Homo sapiens: one gene and its partners. The protein of the gene in region 2 purifies or fractionates together with the protein of the main gene of each other region. This does not show direct contact. Each region holds a gene or a part of one and is shown on either strand. Other genes may lie near its edges.

Region 1 (4,845 bases), about 29 Mb from region 2:
TTCCTAATGTCTCCTCAAAGATGTTAAGCTCAGATACGTGCAGTCTTTTTCTCAAATGTTGCCAAAAAGAAAAAAAGATATAGATGTGTGTCAGAGATAATGTTTGTCATTAATACATTCTGTTAGAAATTTTTTTTTTAACATGCATCATCAAAAAGCAAGTGGTAACACGGAAATGACTCAGAAGCCTAGAAGATGGTGGAGCAGTTTCCTGCTCCTTTTTCTCATTCATTGGCACCATCTGTAATAGGAAGTCCTCAAATTCAAAGCAAGCTGATTTCCAAGCATTCCAAAATAGGGTAGCATGGAGTATCAGGGACACAGATTGCTATGGGCATGTGTGGATCAGTGCATGTATATTATGTACACATGTACAGGTAAGTGTGGGTTTGAAGATGTGTCTATGTATGTGCACATGTATAGATCTATATGTATGTGTATATATCACACAAAACGTATACATATATCAGAGCGCGCCTCTCCTATTTCATCACCTAAACATGTTTTATCTGCTTCTTAAAGGTCATCTCAGCAATTTCTCATTCAGAACCTGTTATCCCTGGATTGCTATTTCATATACATGGTCTTACATCGCAGTATCCACTTTAAAAGGTATCCGAAGACAAATTGCTGTCTGAACATAAGGCCAAGAATACAGTTCTTTTTCTAAGCAACCAAATCTGTTTTTATTTTACACATATTGTGAACTGTATTGCTTACCAGGATTCCCATTTTGCATCAGTTACTAGAAAGCTTAGAGCCAAATTTGTGATTTTCTCATGTGAGCATGCAGGGTCATTGTGTTGGACATCCTTAGCCTTATTGTAACTTTGTTCTCCATATGTATTTTTAAATTTTCAAACCCTTCTTCCACAAACTAGATCTTATGTGTCTTTGAAAAACACATGAAATACACTATATAATAAGTATAACTCATTCAATTTAAAAAAATGTAATATATATGAATGCTCACGTCATTAAGAAATCACATTTGTTATTTACCAAATAATGTGCTACCACTTTAGTATTTATAATCTCCATAGAAAGGCCAAGTAACACTGATGAAAATCTTCATCTCGGTTTTGAACTTTATATCTGCATTAAACAGAATGTAAAAAATGAGAGCGGTTTTATCCCAAGTACTATTAAAAATGTAGCCTCTCATTTGAATGATCTCTAAAGAGCTGGTATGAATAAGAAAATGGTGCCCTGCCTCAAATATGATATATTTTAAGTTCTTATAGAAAATGTAACTTAATATCTTCTACCAAGTTGTTTTATAAGGATGAGAAGAAGTTTTATAATGAAATTGTACATTCTCATATTCCATGTTTAAAATTTCCCAAATCCTATACCACCCTTGGCAAATGGTTTTAACCTAGAGAGAATATACACATAACTTACTTGTAAAACACAAAGTCATTAAGATAAAAAACTTACAGGGTGCTGTAGAATATATGGTTGAGGTTGCATCCACGAAGGACTTTGCACCTAGAAAAGGGAGGATTTTGAAAGAAATATTGATTTTCATTGTAAAGCTTACCTATTTCTTTAGAACTCTTTTTAATCATGTTAAAAATCTACAGAAAGAAAACAAGGAAACAATACTATCAATGATTAAAAAGATTAAGGCAGTTAGAATTCTTGGCAAACTGGTCACTCTGAACAGGATGAAATGATTATTTAGAAACAATTTCTATTTGCCCACTCAAGAAGTAATTGTTGAGTATCAGGCAACAAAGAGAAAAAGGCGAAACAGACTGGGCCCCACCCTCAAGAAATTTACTATCTATGCAAGGGAGATAAACACAGCAACAACTCAAATAGTGAAAAGTGTTAACAATCAAGGTATGAACTAGGTGCTTTAGAATTACAGATGAATGACGATTAATTCCAGCACATCTTATTAGAAGCTAACCCTTAAAGTATGTGCTTATTTAATACAAAAAACCAAATTCAATTTCTCTTTCATATCTAGGACATTAATTTTAGAAATCTTGTATTGTGGTCAACAATTTCTACTTAGTGCAGAAAATAAAAATCTGAAATTCAGATTAAGGAAATTAAACTTCAGTAACTAGATTTTGACATCTACAGTCAAATGGGCATCCACACAGTAGACCCTCTGAATTGAGAAATAGATGTGAGAGTCAGGTTTTGTGGCAGGAAAGAAAGCATGTGTAGTCTGCCACTCAAGAGAAAAACATATCAGCCCATTTCTTGATGCCCAGAGCTTTCCAGAGTCTAAGTAATTTTATTAAGTTTCAGTTTCCAATTCTTAACAACAAAACCCTCCTGCATTTTATCCCCTATTGTTAACTTCAGAGGTTCAACAGAGAGGATATGGGGAAGAGTCATGGGGGAAGAATGTATTGCGATTTACCTTGATAGCAGAGCCCCGATACTTGTTTTCTCTGGTTTCCTTTGCCACCTAAGGCAGACCAAAGTTAAGTGCTTCTGCCTTGTTAACATTTCAGTTATCTGGACTGTAGCCTTTCCCCATTGGGGTTGGTGGTTTCTTGCAGCTGCCAATTTCTCAAATCCAATTGCATAAGCTTATGGTGGTTTAGTGGAGAAAGGCCCACTCCAACATGAGTGCAGGGCCCTCACTGGATATATGATGGGAAGGCAAACAACTCCCTACAGACCCTAATTTGGGCCAGATGCCCCCATTTTTTATATGCTTCAGTGGTCTTAATAATCTAATAGCTTATAGCATTACAGGATTAGGGAACTATGACATCTAATTTTCTTTCTTAAGCAGCAAATCAGCTGCTGTCAATTTCTATTCCTCAATTTTCTAATTATAAAATGGGAATAATAATGTTTTGTAAACTCTTTACTATTGGTTCTTAACCTCTTTAGGGTCATGGAGCCCTCTGAAAACCTAATTAGGGAAATAGAACATTTTTCCCCACTTAATTGCACACACACAAGCAACATTTTGCAAACAACTTAAGGAGTCACAGATCACTTAAAGCTCATCCACTGACCCTACTAGGTCCCTGAACTTATGTAGTTAAAAATCAGTCTTTGAGGCTATGGCACCGAGTGTCAGGCAATGCAATGAAATTCCATATGTATCTTAGAGAAATACAGAATGCCCAGGAGAGGAAATAAGGCCTCTGAAATAATATGTTATTTCTAGTTAGCTATATCAAATCTATTACTGACACAGATCTCCTAATTTTTATTGTACAAAATGGTTCTGTGGCCAAATGCACACTGGTTTTATATTATAAGAGGGAAAAAGAGGTGTTGGAGAAATGTGTTAATAGCTGTAATATCTATAGCAACATAAATTCAAATTAATACTTACAACCTTTCATTTGCCTGAGAATAACTTACACTTGCCCCTATTTTCAGTGACATATAAATGACAGAGGTTTCCAAGTTCAGACAGTTAAGAAAGACTACCTTTTCATAGCAGACACATGAATTGTTAATTAGGGAAGTGCACTAGAGCAGATCTCACTGAGTCTTATACAGTCAAAGAAAGGATAGGAATCCTAAATCCAAAACAACTAAAGAGGCATTAAATTAGTCAATACTACGCCCAGCAGAATGAAGCACCAGAATAAGTAACATAAGAACCCAGAGAGAAAAAAGAAAAGAAAACGAGTGACAACTCAGGGAAAGGAGGCTGTAAGAGCCTAGAAGCATAGGAGACTGTGAATGATAATGCCAATCCTCAGTTTTAGCGTATCTAATCACTTCTGTTATTCAAAACCATTTTTATGTTTTTAGGCAGAATTAGTTATATGACATTGCTTATGTTGGCCAATTCATTATTTAAACGTATAACTAATATACTCTTATTATCAGCCACCTAATCATGCATATTAATGATAATAATCATAGCTAACATTAACTGAGTGATAATGATATGTGAGGTCCTTGGCTGGGCTCTTTATACAGTCTCATTTGGTTTTCATAATTCTCTCAAGCCTATGAGATAGAAACTATTATTATCCCCATTTTAAAGATGAGGAAACTGAGGCTTATAGAAGTTAAAATAACACAACTATTAGATTACATATTGTAGTCCTCTAACCCCAGAAATTAGGACTACAACATCTAATTCAATTGTTTTAAAATCAAGAATACACAAAAATTTAGTCACACAGGATCCTGATGGTCAACAAAAGGGAACTCTGCTCCCACATGTCTGCAACTGAACTCCATTATAAGGTTCCTATCTGGGTCCAGGAAGTAATCCTGTTAGAGGTTTTCTGACACAGGAGGAGAAATGCATGTACACTACTGGGTTCATGGCGGACAGGAGCTACCTTTGCATTAAAATCAAATCAAATCTTGAAATACAAGACATTTCAAGAGTTTTTGTTGCTAAGTTGGGAATTTATTTTAAGGTAAAGCCTCCTCACTTAACCTAAACAGGAAGTCACCTTTTTGCTTTTATATTTTTACCTCAAATGTCAGCTGCATTGCTCACTTAATGCTACCTACTAGAGACACATCTTTATGTATTACCATGTTTATACTTGTTCTTTTATCAGTTCCTGCTGAAGAATAAACAAAAGCAAGGGTACACACCTATTCTGTATTATATCTAACGGCAATTATCTTAAGTTTCAATTTTTGGGACACATGGTGTCCAAAAGCAGGGCCCCTTGGTGAAGGAAGTGTTTGGGTTCATTCCAATCCAAAATGCTATGATTCCAAGGACTGACCACTGACAAACATTTTCCTTTGCTTTACATTCTCCTATACATAAATTGCTCTGCCAAATACAAAGCAGCTCATACTAAATTGGGTATCCAAGCTGCATAATATTTGACTCAAATTTCATAAACGCTCAAAATTTTAAGACACATAAAAATGTAG
Region 2 (5,042 bases):
GATGATTATTCCTTGGCTGGAATTCTTAGATTATTAGTAAAAGAAAATACATATTACAATGTCTAACCAAGGGTACCCATTGGGAAGGGGAATAGAAGGAAAAAAAGTACTACTAATAATTGGCTTTTATTTCTACATGTCCTCCCCAACAAAATAATGGTATCTTTTCTTAACAGATACTGAGCCAAAACCCCTGGAGGGAACTCATCTAATGGGTGTGAAAGACTCTAACATCCATGAGCTTGAACATGAGCAAGAGCCTACTTGTGCCTCCCAGATGGCTGAGCCCTTCCGTACCTTCCGAGATGGATGGGTCTCCTACTACAACCAGCCTGTGTTTCTGGCTGGCATGGGTCTTGCTTTCCTTTATATGACTGTCCTGGGCTTTGACTGCATCACCACAGGGTACGCCTACACTCAGGGACTGAGTGGTTCCATCCTCAGTATTTTGATGGGAGCATCAGCTATAACTGGAATAATGGGAACTGTAGCTTTTACTTGGCTACGTCGAAAATGTGGTTTGGTTCGGACAGGTCTGATCTCAGGATTGGCACAGCTTTCCTGTTTGATCTTGTGTGTGATCTCTGTATTCATGCCTGGAAGCCCCCTGGACTTGTCCGTTTCTCCTTTTGAAGATATCCGATCAAGGTTCATTCAAGGAGAGTCAATTACACCTACCAAGATACCTGAAATTACAACTGAAATATACATGTCTAATGGGTCTAATTCTGCTAATATTGTCCCGGAGACAAGTCCTGAATCTGTGCCCATAATCTCTGTCAGTCTGCTGTTTGCAGGCGTCATTGCTGCTAGAATCGGTAAGAAATCTCTTTTTATATATTAATGAACTAAAGTGTCTTTTTGTAATGTAGGTTCAGAGAATCCATTAATAAATGATCTGAAATGTTCCCTAAATGTTAATTTAAGCAAAATCCACTCTTACGAAATTTTTATTTTACATATTTATACTTTATATTTATTGTGTTTTTTATTTTATAGTTTGAAAACCTGTATTTGTTTACTTTATTATATACATATACTTAAAACATGGTTCAGGCTTGAAAATAATTTTTTCTAAATGAATATCTTAAATATTACTTGTTTTTTTTTTTGTTTTTTTTTTTTTGAGATCAGGGTCTTGCTCTGTTACCCAGGCTGGAGTGCAGTGGTGCAGTCACAGCTCACTGCAGCCTCGACCTCCTGGGATCAAGCAGTCCTCCTGCCTCAGTCCCCCAAGTAGCTGGGACTACAGCCATGTGCCACCATACCTTGCTAATTTTTGTATGTTTTGTAGAGATGGGGTTTTGCCATGTTGCCGAAGGTGGTCTTGAATTACTGAGCTCAAGTGATTACTTTTTAAATGTAATTTAATTTATAAAAGATATTAGCTATATTAATTATACTGCCATCTAGTAGAGTCTTGATATTGCAATAACCTTAACAAAAAAACTGTAGTTTAGAAAATATTCCCATAGGACAACACTAAAAAGGTAATGTTTTTGGCTTTAAAAGAAGATGTGAAAGTGATAAAAAAAATCCTTCAAAGGTCTTCTCTAGCAAATATGTATTTATTATATAGTTTGCCACACAAATGGATTTTATAGCCCTGGAAGGAAACATAAAGACTTCTTACAAAGCAAAATTTAAGTAATAATTAATAGAGTACTGATGAATTATCTCTGAATTCAGTCTTGAAATGAAACTGTTTTTATCTTGTGATACAAAACAGTTCATTAGTTTATTGAAGATATTAATTTCCAGGCAAGACAGCTTTATTGTTTGGGCTTTAGAACTCTAGCAGTAATATAACAATGGTTTAAAGTTTCCTTACACTTTAACCATAACCATTTATTAGGTCATTTGAAACTTAAAAAATACTAGTACTTATACTATAATAGGATTTATTATGTCTCTGATTTCAAAGTTTTGTTTTTGTAGTATGAATAATCACAGAAAAACAGAACTAAGAAGTTTGTAGATTAGACTTCTTTTTGTCTGATGACTGTAAAAATCATTTATTGAGGCCACTAATAACCCAATATTTATTTATGAAAAATAATTCTTAAGGCAAGGCTATGGTATATTTAAGGTGACTTAAAGACAGTCAGGCTAAAATGTATATTTTGCATATGTCAACAGATTTTTATCTGTGATTTGAAATGTATGCCTGTAAACTAAAATCTAATCTTTAAAAAAATATTTTATTATAGGTCTTTGGTCCTTTGATTTAACTGTGACACAGTTGCTGCAAGAAAATGTAATTGAATCTGAAAGAGGCATTATAAATGGTGTACAGAACTCCATGAACTATCTTCTTGATCTTCTGCATTTCATCATGGTCATCCTGGCTCCAAATCCTGAAGCTTTTGGCTTGCTCGTATTGATTTCAGTCTCCTTTGTGGCAATGGGCCACATTATGTATTTCCGATTTGCCCAAAATACTCTGGGAAACAAGCTCTTTGCTTGCGGTCCTGATGCAAAAGAAGTTAGGAAGGAAAATCAAGCAAATACATCTGTTGTTTGAGACAGTTTAACTGTTGCTATCCTGTTACTAGATTATATAGAGCACATGTGCTTATTTTGTACTGCAGAATTCCAATAAATGGCTGGGTGTTTTGCTCTGTTTTTACCACAGCTGTGCCTTGAGAACTAAAAGCTGTTTAGGAAACCTAAGTCAGCAGAAATTAACTGATTAATTTCCCTTATGTTGAGGCATGGAAAAAAAATTGGAAAAGAAAAACTCAGTTTAAATACGGAGACTATAATGATAACACTGAATTCCCCTATTTCTCATGAGTAGATACAATCTTACGTAAAAGAGTGGTTAGTCACGTGAATTCAGTTATCATTTGACAGATTCTTATCTGTACTAGAATTCAGATATGTCAGTTTTCTGCAAAACTCACTCTTGTTCAAGACTAGCTAATTTATTTTTTTGCATCTTAGTTATTTTTAAAAACAAATTCTTCAAGTATGAAGACTAAATTTTGATAACTAATATTATCCTTATTGATCCTATTGATCTTAAGGTATTTACATGTATGTGGAAAAACAAAACACTTAACTAGAATTCTCTAATAAGGTTTATGGTTTAGCTTAAAGAGCACCTTTGTATTTTTATTATCAGATGGGGCAACATATTGTATGAAGCATATGTAGCACTTCACAGCATGGTTATCATGTAAGCTGCAGGTAGAAGCAAAGCTGTAAAGTAGATTTATCACACAATGACTGCATACAGACTTCAAATATGTCAATAGTTTGGTCATAGAACCTAGAAGCCAAAAGCCACACAGAAGGGCAAGAATCCCAATTTAACTCATGTTATCATCATTAGTGATCTGTGTTGTAGAACATGAGGGTGTAAGCCTTCAGCCTGGCAAGTTACATGTAGAAAGCCCACACTTGTGAAGGTTTTGTTTTACAAATCACTTGATTTAACACACTCAGGTAGAATATTTTTATTTTTACTGTTTTATACCCAGAAGTTATTTCTACATTGTTCTACAGCAAGAATATTCATAAAAGTATCCCTTTCAAATGCCTTTGAGAAGAATAGAAGAAAAAAAGTTTGTATATATTTTAAAAAATTGTTTTAAAAGTCAGTTTGCAACATGTCTGTACCAAGATGGTACTTTGCCTTAACCGTTTATATGCACTTTCATGGAGACTGCAATACGTTGCTATGAGCACTTTCTTTATCCTTGGAGTTTAATCCTTTGCTTCATCTTTCTACAGTATGACATAATGATTTGCTATGTTGTAAAATCTTTGTAAAAAATTTCTATATAAAAATATTTTGAAAATCTTAATTTTTCCTGAATTCTGTTCCCCAATTATTTAACAAGGCTTTTGTTACAGAACATCTGTTTTGGGTAACTTGTTTTTCTCTATAAAGGGCTACAGTGTCATGATTTTTAGTGTTATCTCCCTGTTCATATTTCTAGTTTATGGTGGACTGGATAAAAGTGTAGTAGACATGAGGCCCAGCACTCTTTCTTTGACTTTGAATATGTCACACTAAGCACTTTTAAGTTCTCACTTCTATTTTCCCTTCTGTAAATTGGAAATGATAGTAAAAACAACCCTACCTACCTTTCAACTTTCCTGGTTGAATGAAATAAGAGAAGCCATGTGGAATTACTTAGTGAACTACAAGACAAGGCAGCATTTTTACTAGAGGTTGGACCTTAGTAATGACGGGGAGCTGAGGAGAGATGTCTGCTGCCTCTAGAGAGAGTAGAGCCACATTCTGCATAAAGGAAACATTTATTGGGGACTTGATCTAAACTGTTATCAGTCCTAGGGATTCAGACTGGACTCAGACATAGTTGATCAGAGCCTCCTTTCCTTTCTCCTAAAATTGAGAACTTGAGAGCATTTGGCATCGCCCTGCAGCTACTGATCTGTTCATGATGTTTGTGCAAACTAGATGCCTCTGTTAGGTTTGGCTGCTGTCTTGAACTGGCTCTCTGCTCCCTCCCACAGGGGTCAAGGCTGGGATTGAAGATCTGTCCTGAATGTTTGCAGCTGTAACTGAAGGCCTATGACCTTGAAAAATGAACAGAACCACATTAGCAAGGGGAGGCCTCAGCTCTTAATATGGGCATTTTGCCATTCTGTGCATCTAGTGAGAGAGGCCCTGTGTAGGAAGAAGAAGCATGGAGTTGAAGAGTTAATAGGAATTTTTACAGCTGTTGCTCTTACCTTTGCAGACTACTGCTCAGAGCAGGAAGAGGAAGGAAGTGGAAAAGAATCACTGCTGGTCTGGACAGCCTTTGTTGTTTACTTCCTCAGACCACAGAAGTAGGGCAGGGGTAGGTGACCTGTGTGGCTGTGTTATGGGGGTGCTTCTAAATATGGGGTCAAACTCAAATAACTGCAGAGCCAATTAGGTCATTAAAATGAATGAAGTAGATTTGAAATAGGAAAATACTCGTTTTATATGTAATTGCATTTTACCGAAGTATTTAATTTTGTTCCCACTTAAAAACAAATTCATTACATTTTTTTTCCTGCTTTTCTCTGTTGCAGGCTTCTTA
Region 3 (4,845 bases), on a different chromosome or scaffold from region 2:
TCCACTTAGCTCAGAGACCGTCCTGGGGATTGCGAAACCCTGGGGGCGCCCAGCACAGAAGGCACACTGAATAACTGAATATATGTGCCTTTCCTTTGATGATATGCACTGGGTCTTAAGAAATAGTAGAACAGGCCAGCTTCAGTGTTTACCCCGGTCTGGTTTTCTCAGCTATGGCCCTATGGTGTCAGAGGCTGGTGAACACAGACGCTACAGGCGGCCCTGCAGGCTGAGACACATCAGCAGAGCAAACACTTCCAGCGTGTGGAGAAGCAGACGAGGAGGAGTTCCAACTAAGCCAATTTAACTAGCACACATCCAAAGTAGAAAGGCTGCTGTTTGCAAATAAAAGATGTTGAACAGGCAAGGCTGACTGAGAATATAAAAACCGCCTGGTGTTCTTCTCCTAAGCACAGAATCCTTACCTTCATAAGGGGTCATCTCTGGGCCTCGGACGACATAGTGCCTAAGGGAGAGAAGAAAATTACTTGGGATTTGAGGACAGCAAATTCTCCAAAATCTGAATCATTCCAAGCCTGGGGTTTATAGAACCCAGCCAAAATTACATTCACATTCAGGCAGTGAACAAATGAAGGTGAAATGTCACACAGCCACACGGCTTCAAAACCCCCGTCTCTTCTACCGTGGGTGCTTTTAGTCTCTTGTAACAGGATCTTAGAGACTATACTTTATAAGTTTACCATAAAGTACCTTTGTTTCGACAATATAACATGCACGAAGCTCATCTTAATAATAACTGAAATCTTAAATAAATTTTAATTTCACAGTACATTACTAAGATGTACTTGAAGACTGTAATCCCAGCACTTTGGGAGGGCACGGTGGAAGATCGCTTGAGCCCAGGAGCTTGACACCAGCCTAGGCAACATAGCAAGACCCCACCTTTATTTAAAAAAAAAAAGTTAGCCGGGTGTGGTAGTGCATGCCTGCAGCCCGCCTACTCAGGAGGCTGAGGCGGGAGGATCACTTGAGCCCAGGAGTTTAAGGCTGCAGTGAGCTATGATTGTGCCACCACATCCCATTTGGGCAACAGAGTGAGACCCTATCTCCAAAGAAAAAACGATGTACTTTGAAATGTATATTCTTAAATGTACTTATATATAATGTGTTTTTTGATATCACACATGCAGGCTAAACAGAACACAGCTAGTGATGCGGGGCCGGCTCGGTACCCCCAGCCCTTTCTCGTGCTCCTGGAAAAACCATAAGTGACTTGAGCAGCTGTCCTGGAGCAGAAGGAACAGGAACTGCCGTGATTGTGTCCAAAGCCACAGTCCCCACACAGAGCTCACCCTCAGACCAGGGGCAGCAGCAAATCGACTAAACACTCCTCCACACAAATAAATAAGGCTTCTGCTTTACGTAAAGAAGTGTCTGGGCTTTACAGATTCCCAAACGAAACAGAAGAGCACAGAGAAGAAAGTAAAACCAGCTAGAAATGCCAGAAACCAGACATGGCTTCAACTGCCAACACCGGCCAACACCGGCCATCATCTTTCCCCTTGCTCTGCCCCAGGACATGTGTGCCATCACTTTAAAACTAATGGGGGCTGGGCTCGGTGGCTCATGCCCGTGATCCCAGCACTCTGGGAGGCCAAGGTGGGTAGATCACCTGAAGTCAGGAATTCGAGACCAGCCTGGTCAACATGGCGAAACTCCGTCTCTACTAAAAATACAAAAATTAGGCCAGGTGCGGTGGCTCACACCTGTAATCCCAGCACTTTGGGAGGCTGAGGCAGGTGGATTGCCTGAGGTCAGGAGTTCAACACCAGCCTGGGCAACACGGTGAAACCCTGTCTCTATTAAAAATACAAAAATTAGCCAGCCATGGTGGCACACACCTGTAATCCCAGCTACTCAGGAGGCTGAGCCAGGAGAATCGCTTGAACCTGGAAGACGGAGGTTGCAGTGAGCCGAGGTCACACCGCTGCACTCCAGCCTGAGTGACAGAAATAGTACTCAAAAGAAACTACTAATGGGATGACGTATAGTAATGTATACTAATGGGATGATGTATCAGCAGAGCCAGCTGGTATGTTTTACTCAAAAAATGCCATTATCATGTGTCATTGACCCAGGAACCCAGTGGCTCTGAGCTCAGCACGCGATGCACCCAGGAATGTGGCCTTACGTTGTTACTGTGCCCAACCTGCGAAAACTGGGAAGAAATGAAGAAGTCATCCTCTTCCTGAGACAGAGCCCAGCAGCCTTGGGGCGGCTGAGAGAAGATGGGATCCACGTGGCCCATAGCGCACCCCACAGGCCTTTTCTGGGAAAGCAGTCTTCTCTCGGGGAAGGGAGAGACACCTGCCGAGGACCTGCCAGGGGCTCTCGCACTGACGCTGCTGTCCTTAATGCCTCAACAGTACAGGCAACATGGGCTACGCTGAGCCCCTGCTCTCCTGGAAGTCTGGTATTTTGGTATTTTGGCAGGTGCCAGGCAGAGGGTGCCTAGGACCAGCCCCATAAAGTCCCTGGGCCTTCCCCTAATGTTTTAGTTTCCAATGAGTTTCTCTGCTCAACATTCCACACATGCCGTCCAAACCCAAGCCTGCTGCTGGGAATGGAGCACAGAGACTTTGCCCCACATGCCTCTTCCGCTGGCTGACTGCAGTTTTCTCTCGTGTGTGTGTGTGTGTGTGTGTGTGTGTTTTCTCTCCATTGTGTGTGTGTGTGTGTGTGTGTGTGTGTGTGTGTGTGTGTGTGTGGTGGAGTCTCACTCTGTCGCCAGGCTGGAGTACAGTGGTGCGATCTCAGCTCACTGCAACCTCCGCTTCCCGGGTTCAAGCGATTCTCCTGCCTCACCCTCCCAAGTAGCAAGTAGCTGAGATTACAGGCGTGCGCCACCATACCGGGCTAATTTCTGTATTTTCAGTAGAGACAGGGTTCCACCATGTTGGCCAGGCTGGTCTCAATCTCCTGACCTTGTGATCCACCCACCTCGGCCTCCCAAAGTGCTGGGATTACAGGCATGAGCCACTGTGCCTGGACTTCTCTCCGTAATTTTAATGGTGAGTATTCTTTGTGAATCATCGAACCTGCACCGGGACTTGGGGACGCCTGACCCACAGATTTGTGGGGAGGGATTTCCCCACACAATGAAGACGTCCTCGCAACCAGCGAGGAGGCGGCTACCGTGGAACTTGTCCCTCTCACCTGCCAGCGATGTCCTGGGGCCACATGTGATTTTCAACACTGGGGGCAGAGAGCACTCTGGTGGCCAAGGGGCTCCGCCTCACCCTGGGTATCCTCCGCCTGCCTGGGCTGGGCCTCCTCTGTGAGCCAGAGAAGGTGGACCCCTGACCAAGCCGAAACACATTTCCTTTCAACTCACTGAAATATCTTTTCTCTGGAATTAAAAAAAATTAGGCCAGGCATGGTGGCTCAAGCCTGTAATCCCAGCACTTTGGGAGGCTGAGGCAGGCAGATCACCTGAGATAAGGAGTTCGAGACCAGCCTGACCAATATGGTGAAACCCCATCTCTAAGGCAGGAGAATTGCTTGAACCAGGGAGGCGGAGGTCACAGTGAGCCGAGATCACGCCATTGCACTCCAGCCTGGGCGACAGAGCAAGACTCTGTCTCAAAAAAATAAATAAGGCCGGGCGTGGTGGCTCACGCCTGTAATCCCAGCATTCTGGGAGGCCAAGGCGGGCGGATCACGAGGTCAGGAGATCAAGACCATCCTGGCTAACACGGTGAAACCCCGTCTCTACTAAAAATACAAAAACAAAAAATTAGCCGGGCATGGTGGCAGGCGCCTGTAGTCCCAGCTACTTGGGAAACTGAGGCCAGAGAATGGCATGAACCCGGCAGGCAGAGCTTGCAGTGAGCCGAGATTGTGCCACTGCACTCCAGTCTGGGTGACAGTGCAAGACTGTCTCAAAAAATAATAATAAGTAATTTTTTTTTAAAAGATCAAAATATAAAACATCCTTACATTTTATTTTATTTTATTTTATTTTGAGACAGAGTTTCGCTCTTGTTGCCCAGGTTGGAGTGCAGTGGTGTGATCTCAGCTCACTGCAAGCTCCGCCTCCCGGGTTCAAGCGATTCTCCTGCCTCGGCTTCCCGAGTAGCTGGGACTACAGGTGTGCGCCATCATGCCCAGCTAATATTTGTATTTTTAGTAGAGACAGGGTTTCACCATGTTGACCAGGCTGGTCTCGAACTCCTGACCTCAGGTGATCCGCCCGCCTGAGCCTCCCAAAGTGCTGGGATTACAGGTGTGAGCCACCATGCCCGGCCTCTCACACTTTATTTCTTACCAAATTACTAGCAGACCTGTAATGGCAGTGTTTCGACAGAGCAGTATGCACTCTCACACTCTATACTTCAGCAAGGGGGAGAGTCACCATGAGGTGAATGCTTATGAGGCACAGGTCCTCTCGTTGTCAGCCTGAGGGTCGGGGCACCTGGCCCAAGCCAGTGCCAGGGACAGGAGTGTCGGACCCTAGTCCTGTCAAATACTCCAAGCCAAAACAGGCTAATTCCCATATCCAGAAGCAAAGAGCAGAGTCTAGAAAGGCAGTTTCTCCTCTAAGTGCCTAGAGTGCACACCAGCAACAGCTGTGAACCCTGCATACCTGGACCCCTCCCCTAAGGACCCCACACCAGAGACTCTCTCCAGCCCCAACCTGAGTCAACCTGGACCCCGCCCCCCTCAAGGGCCCCACACCGGAGATTCTCTCCAGCCCCAGCCTGAGTCAAGCATGGCTCTGTGATGTCCCCGGCATGCGTCCATTGGGAAAAGACCAGAGAGTGTCCACAGGCCCCTGGGCACCCCACTCACCCCGGGGGAGGGTGCAGGAGCACCTTGCCAATG
Region 4 (4,845 bases), on a different chromosome or scaffold from region 2:
CACTACCATATACCAATACACTGGGAATACCAATTTTCCTGAATTGTATAAACCCGAATTCCCAAAGAAGATAAAATTATTCACTAAAAAAATGACTGAGATGATGTTTCCCTGTCCATCCCCTGTCCTGGTGGGAGGGCTAAGCTAGAAGTTAGAAAAATAAAGTGTCATTATTTGCAGCCTGTGTGGAGCAGCAAAACTGTGAGTATACCCTCATTTTTTCTATTTGTTTTCACTTTCTAATTGTTTGTTGCCATTTCCCAATTTGTTAAAGCAAAATAGGAAAAGATTGGGAGAGACTTCATGGACACAGGTAGGCATGGGAAAAGGGCAAGACACTGGGGTGAACTCTGTCCCTAAACCCATAGCAAGGAATGCACAGAAAGAGTCTTAATAAATATATGTCTTAACAACAGCAAAATTGTTGCATCAAAGACTACTAAGTTTAAAAGCAGAGAGTCATTCAGTCCATATGACTGAGAGGAGGTCAATAAGAGTGCAATTTCAGTTAGGTACACAACTGCAGCTGCAAAGTCTACAGTACAAAGGTACAATTCCACTCTGGTCCCACCGGAACCCTGGACCAATCAATCTCACAGAGACTTGTCTAAGCCCCAGGGTAAATTTTCTTAAGAGTCTGAACACACTTTTATTTCTGAGAGATTGATTTGATAATATTTGGAGACTTTACTCCATGCTTTACCATGTCCTATTGGTACACATCTTACATAGGCCAAAGTTAAAAGTTAGCCCTCAAATTCTTAAGGCTTCATTTAAATAAAATGTTTCTTTATATTTTCTGAATGTAAATACACTTTGGCATACATCATGTCCTATTTTGATAAACTATAGCAGGCTTTGTCAAAATGATTTTATTGCATTGAAATGCTCCTGTATTAATCATTTCCTAAAATAGGAAGAGCATTGCCATAAACAAATACCTAAGACCAAGACCAAGACCTATATTGCCTAGGCTTTGTAACTAATTTTTCTAGGCAAAGTTTTTTGGGGGGGTTAAAATTGCTTTTAAAATTATTGATCTGAAGGTATAACATATCTAGGCGTTTTAACATCTGAAATTCCTTTTATACACATTGCAATATGCAAACTGCTTTTTGCATCTTGCCTTTTATTGTGAAAAAAACTGTCTTAACCAAACTGGAAAATATTTTACACTGTGTGACACTTTGGGAGAAGTCTATTTGTTTATGCTTTGTCTCCAAATAAACATTAAAAGGTCATTAGGGGCTCTCTATTTAATTTCGACAGCACAGCTTGAGGACAAAGGGCCAGTTACTGGAAGCTTGCAGGAAGTTTGCCAGTTAGATATTCAGCCACAAGAATCTATTATAGCTGTTCTTTCAACCAAATAATTCACATTTAATTGTAGTTCTTCCTGTTGACAACTGTAGTATGTTCCTTTCTACTCATTACTGTAGACATATCTCCCTTCAAGTAATCAATCACATTCTCTCTTTTTAGCCCCTTATTTAAAAAAAGAAAAGCCCGCTCCTATAATTTCTGGTAGTCTTAGACCCAGAAATGAGTTTTTAATAGTAGCATAACTATTTTTTAGTATTGCTTTGGTAAGATATTAATAATGCTATTCCCTCCCATAAATTTAGAATTCACTCAAGTGATCTTGGTTTATGCTTAGACGTGGTTCCCAAAACTTGGGTATTATAGGTGAAAAGTTTCTGGATTTTTGACTTCATTAATTGAGACATATATTTTTTATTGCTGCATAACAAATTATCACAAAGTAGGTTAAAACAACACCCATTTATAATCTCACTATTCTATGGGTCAGAGTCTGGCATGGTGTGGCTGGGTTCACTGCCTCAGGCATCACCAAGCTGAAATCAAGGGGCTGCTGAGCTGAGTACTTATCTGAGGCTCTGTGGAGAAATCTGCCTAGCTCATTTGGGTTATTGCCAGAATTCAGTTCAGTGGGGTCATAGAATTAAAATCCTTGTTTGCTTGCTGGCTATGGGCCGAGAGCCTCTCCCAGTTTCTTAAGGTCACCCGTATGCCCTCCTAGGTGGCCCCTTTCATCTTCAAGTCAGCTTCAGTGTGTGGACTCTTCAGATAATCTCACTGACTAAAACATAAATCATGAGAGTGATGTCTCATCCTGTTCACAGGTTCTGGAGATTTAGGATAGGATTTCTTCTGGGAGCCACTTTGGAAATGCTGCCTACCATAAACAAGAATCATAAGGAAAACAGTCAAAAATTAACTGCTGCAAGAATATGGCAGAGACTCAACCTAGGTATATATAACACAAATTCAAGTGATTTGCCGGTTCTAACCAGCCTTCCTCCACTGGCGCAGCATGAATGCAGTACCTAGTGAATTTTCTTTTGTCTGTGTTCTCAGGAGAAATAGGAACTTGATAATAAATGGAATTTGGTCAGTGTGAAATGTTAGTCACTTAATTAGCTCTTCCATACAAGCTGTCTTGTGTGAAGTGTTTGGAAGTGTACTGCACTAGCTATTGCTTGCTTTTTTTTTTTTTTTTTTGAGATGGAATCTTGCTCTGTCGCCCAGGCTATAATGTAACGGCGTGATCTCGGCTCACTGCAACCTCCACCTCCTGGGTTCAAGCAACTCTCCTGCCTTGGCCTCCTGAGTAGCTGGGACTACAGGCGCACGCCACCACACCTAGCTAATTTTTGTATTTTTAGTAGAGACGGGATTTCACCATGTTGGCCAGGCTGGTCTCAAACTCCTGACCTTGTGATCCACCTGCCTTGGCCTCCCAAAGTGCTGGGATTACAGGTGTGAGCCACCACGCCCAGCCCTATTGCTTGCTATTTTTTATTTGGCAACCTTGGAGAATGAGTCATTTAAAGTAAATTTTCCAGAAAATTTTAGCTAGTAATTGTACCTATTTAAGAATCATTTAAAAATTTAAAAATCATTTTTGAAGGGATGCTATATAACTTGGGAGGCCACTAGGCTGAGACAACATCAGCGCCTTGGGTTCCTACGTAAGCAAACCAAAACCCAATTCAATGTAGTAAACAGTAAAATGAAACTTCGAATCTGTAACTAGAGACTTTACCAATCAGAAGCCGCCAACTAACATCTAACTAGGGAGTCTCCACTTTAACCAGTCTAATATCTATTTCTTAGTCTGAGAATACGTTATAAAAGTTTCCTCCCTGCCCAGAGGAGCATTGACAGAACTGCTTGTGGTCTTAGGGCACCCAATTGCTGTGGCTGAATGCTTGAATAAACTTGTTAAACTTTCAATATGCCCAAGTTTATCTTTTAATAGGGGTAAAATGAATGTCATTAGTGCAAGCTTTTTCTTTAAAAATATTTTATTTGCTTCCCTGTTTTCCTAAACAGCGGATATAATGGAAAAAAAGTAACTTTTTTGATAACAATAGTGAAATGAACACTTATTGAATACTTATTATATCCTGATCACTCAAGATCATAATTATAGTAATTATGATTACCGTAAGGTGGAATGTTCTTTGTTGTCTAGTTTTTTGGTCAGGATTTGAGCTGTTATTTCTTCTTGGTCATTAGGCCTGCTTATAGTGACATCTTCACTGTACCATTTGTTTTGGAAACCTCTAATGGAATGAAAAACCCGGTAATAATGTTTGTAAGAACTGTATGTTAAGAAAGTTGCCAAGCCTGAGTGAGAGCCTATGAAGTCAAGTATAAAAGAGTTTTGTGATGGCCGTTCGTATACTTAAAAAAATTTTCACTTATTTCCAGCTTCCTAGAGGTCATCAGAAAAAAAAGTAATCTGAAGATAAGAGAATTACTATAATTTTTGCTATTATATAGTCAATTAATTCAGTAAATAATTAACTAATGCCTACTATGGACCCAGAACACACTATTGTGTTTACTAATTGTTTTTATATGTATGTCATTTATTTTAATTTGAATATATATAACTTAGGATCAGGAATTATCTCTTATAAAGTCTTTAACTACTTACTGATGTGTTGAAGTGACAGATAAGGCACTGACCCAAGTAAATAGCAGTACTGAGTATAAGGAAATTATTTTCCACTTCACTCTTTTAGAAATAAATATTATTGGCATTAATACCAGAGAAGTAAACTTTATTTTTTTAGTCCCCCCCAAAACCTATACATTTTTCTCTTTTAATATCTGCCAGTGTTTTCAGTTGCACTAACCCTGCATATAATCCCCTCAGGTGACTTTTCTATCTTATTCTGTTACCTGATTTGTTCTATAGCATGAATCTCTCCACATGAGGAGCAAGGAAAAGTTTTTACAATACAGTCTATGATTTTTCCTATCTTCCTATGTATCTTTTATTTACTCATTTAAACTTATTCAGAAATATTTATTTAGTGTCTCCTATATTCTAGGTACTAGTGACCAAGCACTAGTACTTGCATATGCATATACTAGTACTCTCAATGCATATTTTCCTGTTCATCATCCCAGACCTTCAAGATCAACATTCAGCTTAAACTCGATTCTTTACCTAAAATTCATATTACACTCTTTCACATCTTATTCTTCAGCCCATTTATTTCCACTCCTTTTTAGTCATCATACGATAAGAAGTGCCAACCATGTCTTGTGATACTCCATCATCCTTCACTGACTGGGCTAAACATGCTGCAAATCTGGGACAAAGAAGGGACCAAAAGGTTGCTATCTGCACACATCTATGCAAAAAGTTTAGCATAGTATTGGCAAAATTGCTGAAGCTGTATTCAAAATTCACTGGTAAGATATATGGGGGAAAAAAATCACAGAGAAAGCAGTCCCACCTAGAGTTTGCAAAACTGTAGCATATTGTTGAAGCCAGAGGAGATGTTAAAGTCACAGGACAATAAC

Evidence for each region.
Region 1: the proteins of SLC40A1 (region 2) and RBMS1 purify together in Homo sapiens (affinity purification with mass spectrometry; one large-scale study listed by BioGRID and IntAct). This does not show direct contact.
Region 3: the proteins of SLC40A1 (region 2) and UBE2J2 purify together in Homo sapiens (affinity purification with mass spectrometry; one large-scale study listed by BioGRID and IntAct). This does not show direct contact.
Region 4: the proteins of SLC40A1 (region 2) and CP purify together in Homo sapiens (co-immunoprecipitation; one study listed by IntAct). This does not show direct contact.

Annotation. Positions count from the first base shown.
Region 1 is NC_000002.12:160,279,874-160,284,718, forward strand, and holds part of RBMS1 (RNA-binding motif, single-stranded-interacting protein 1), read right to left. Parts: intron 2,432-4,845; coding exon of another isoform or gene 2,384-2,431; intron 1,492-2,383; coding exon 1,441-1,491; intron 1-1,440.
Region 2 is NC_000002.12:189,559,360-189,564,401, reverse strand, and holds the end of SLC40A1 (ferroportin), read left to right. Parts: intron 1-176; coding exon 177-818; intron 819-2,210; coding exon 2,211-2,524; 3' UTR 2,525-3,812; downstream 3,813-5,042. UniProt on the Homo sapiens protein: Transports Fe(2+) from the inside of a cell to the outside of the cell, playing a key role for maintaining systemic iron homeostasis.
Region 3 is NC_000001.11:1,262,921-1,267,765, forward strand, and holds part of UBE2J2 (ubiquitin-conjugating enzyme E2 J2), read right to left. Parts: coding exon of another isoform or gene 4,813-4,845; intron 3,371-4,812; coding exon of another isoform or gene 3,178-3,370; intron 2,671-3,177; exon of another isoform or gene 1,911-2,670; coding exon of another isoform or gene 1,863-1,910; intron 467-1,862; coding exon 426-466; intron 1-425. UniProt on the Homo sapiens protein: Catalyzes the covalent attachment of ubiquitin to other proteins. Seems to function in the selective degradation of misfolded membrane proteins from the endoplasmic reticulum (ERAD).
Region 4 is NC_000003.12:149,214,396-149,219,240, forward strand, and holds part of CP (ceruloplasmin precursor), read right to left. Parts: intron 1-4,845. UniProt on the Homo sapiens protein: Multifunctional blue, copper-binding (6-7 atoms per molecule) glycoprotein. It has ferroxidase activity oxidizing Fe(2+) to Fe(3+) without releasing radical oxygen species. It is involved in iron transport across the cell membrane.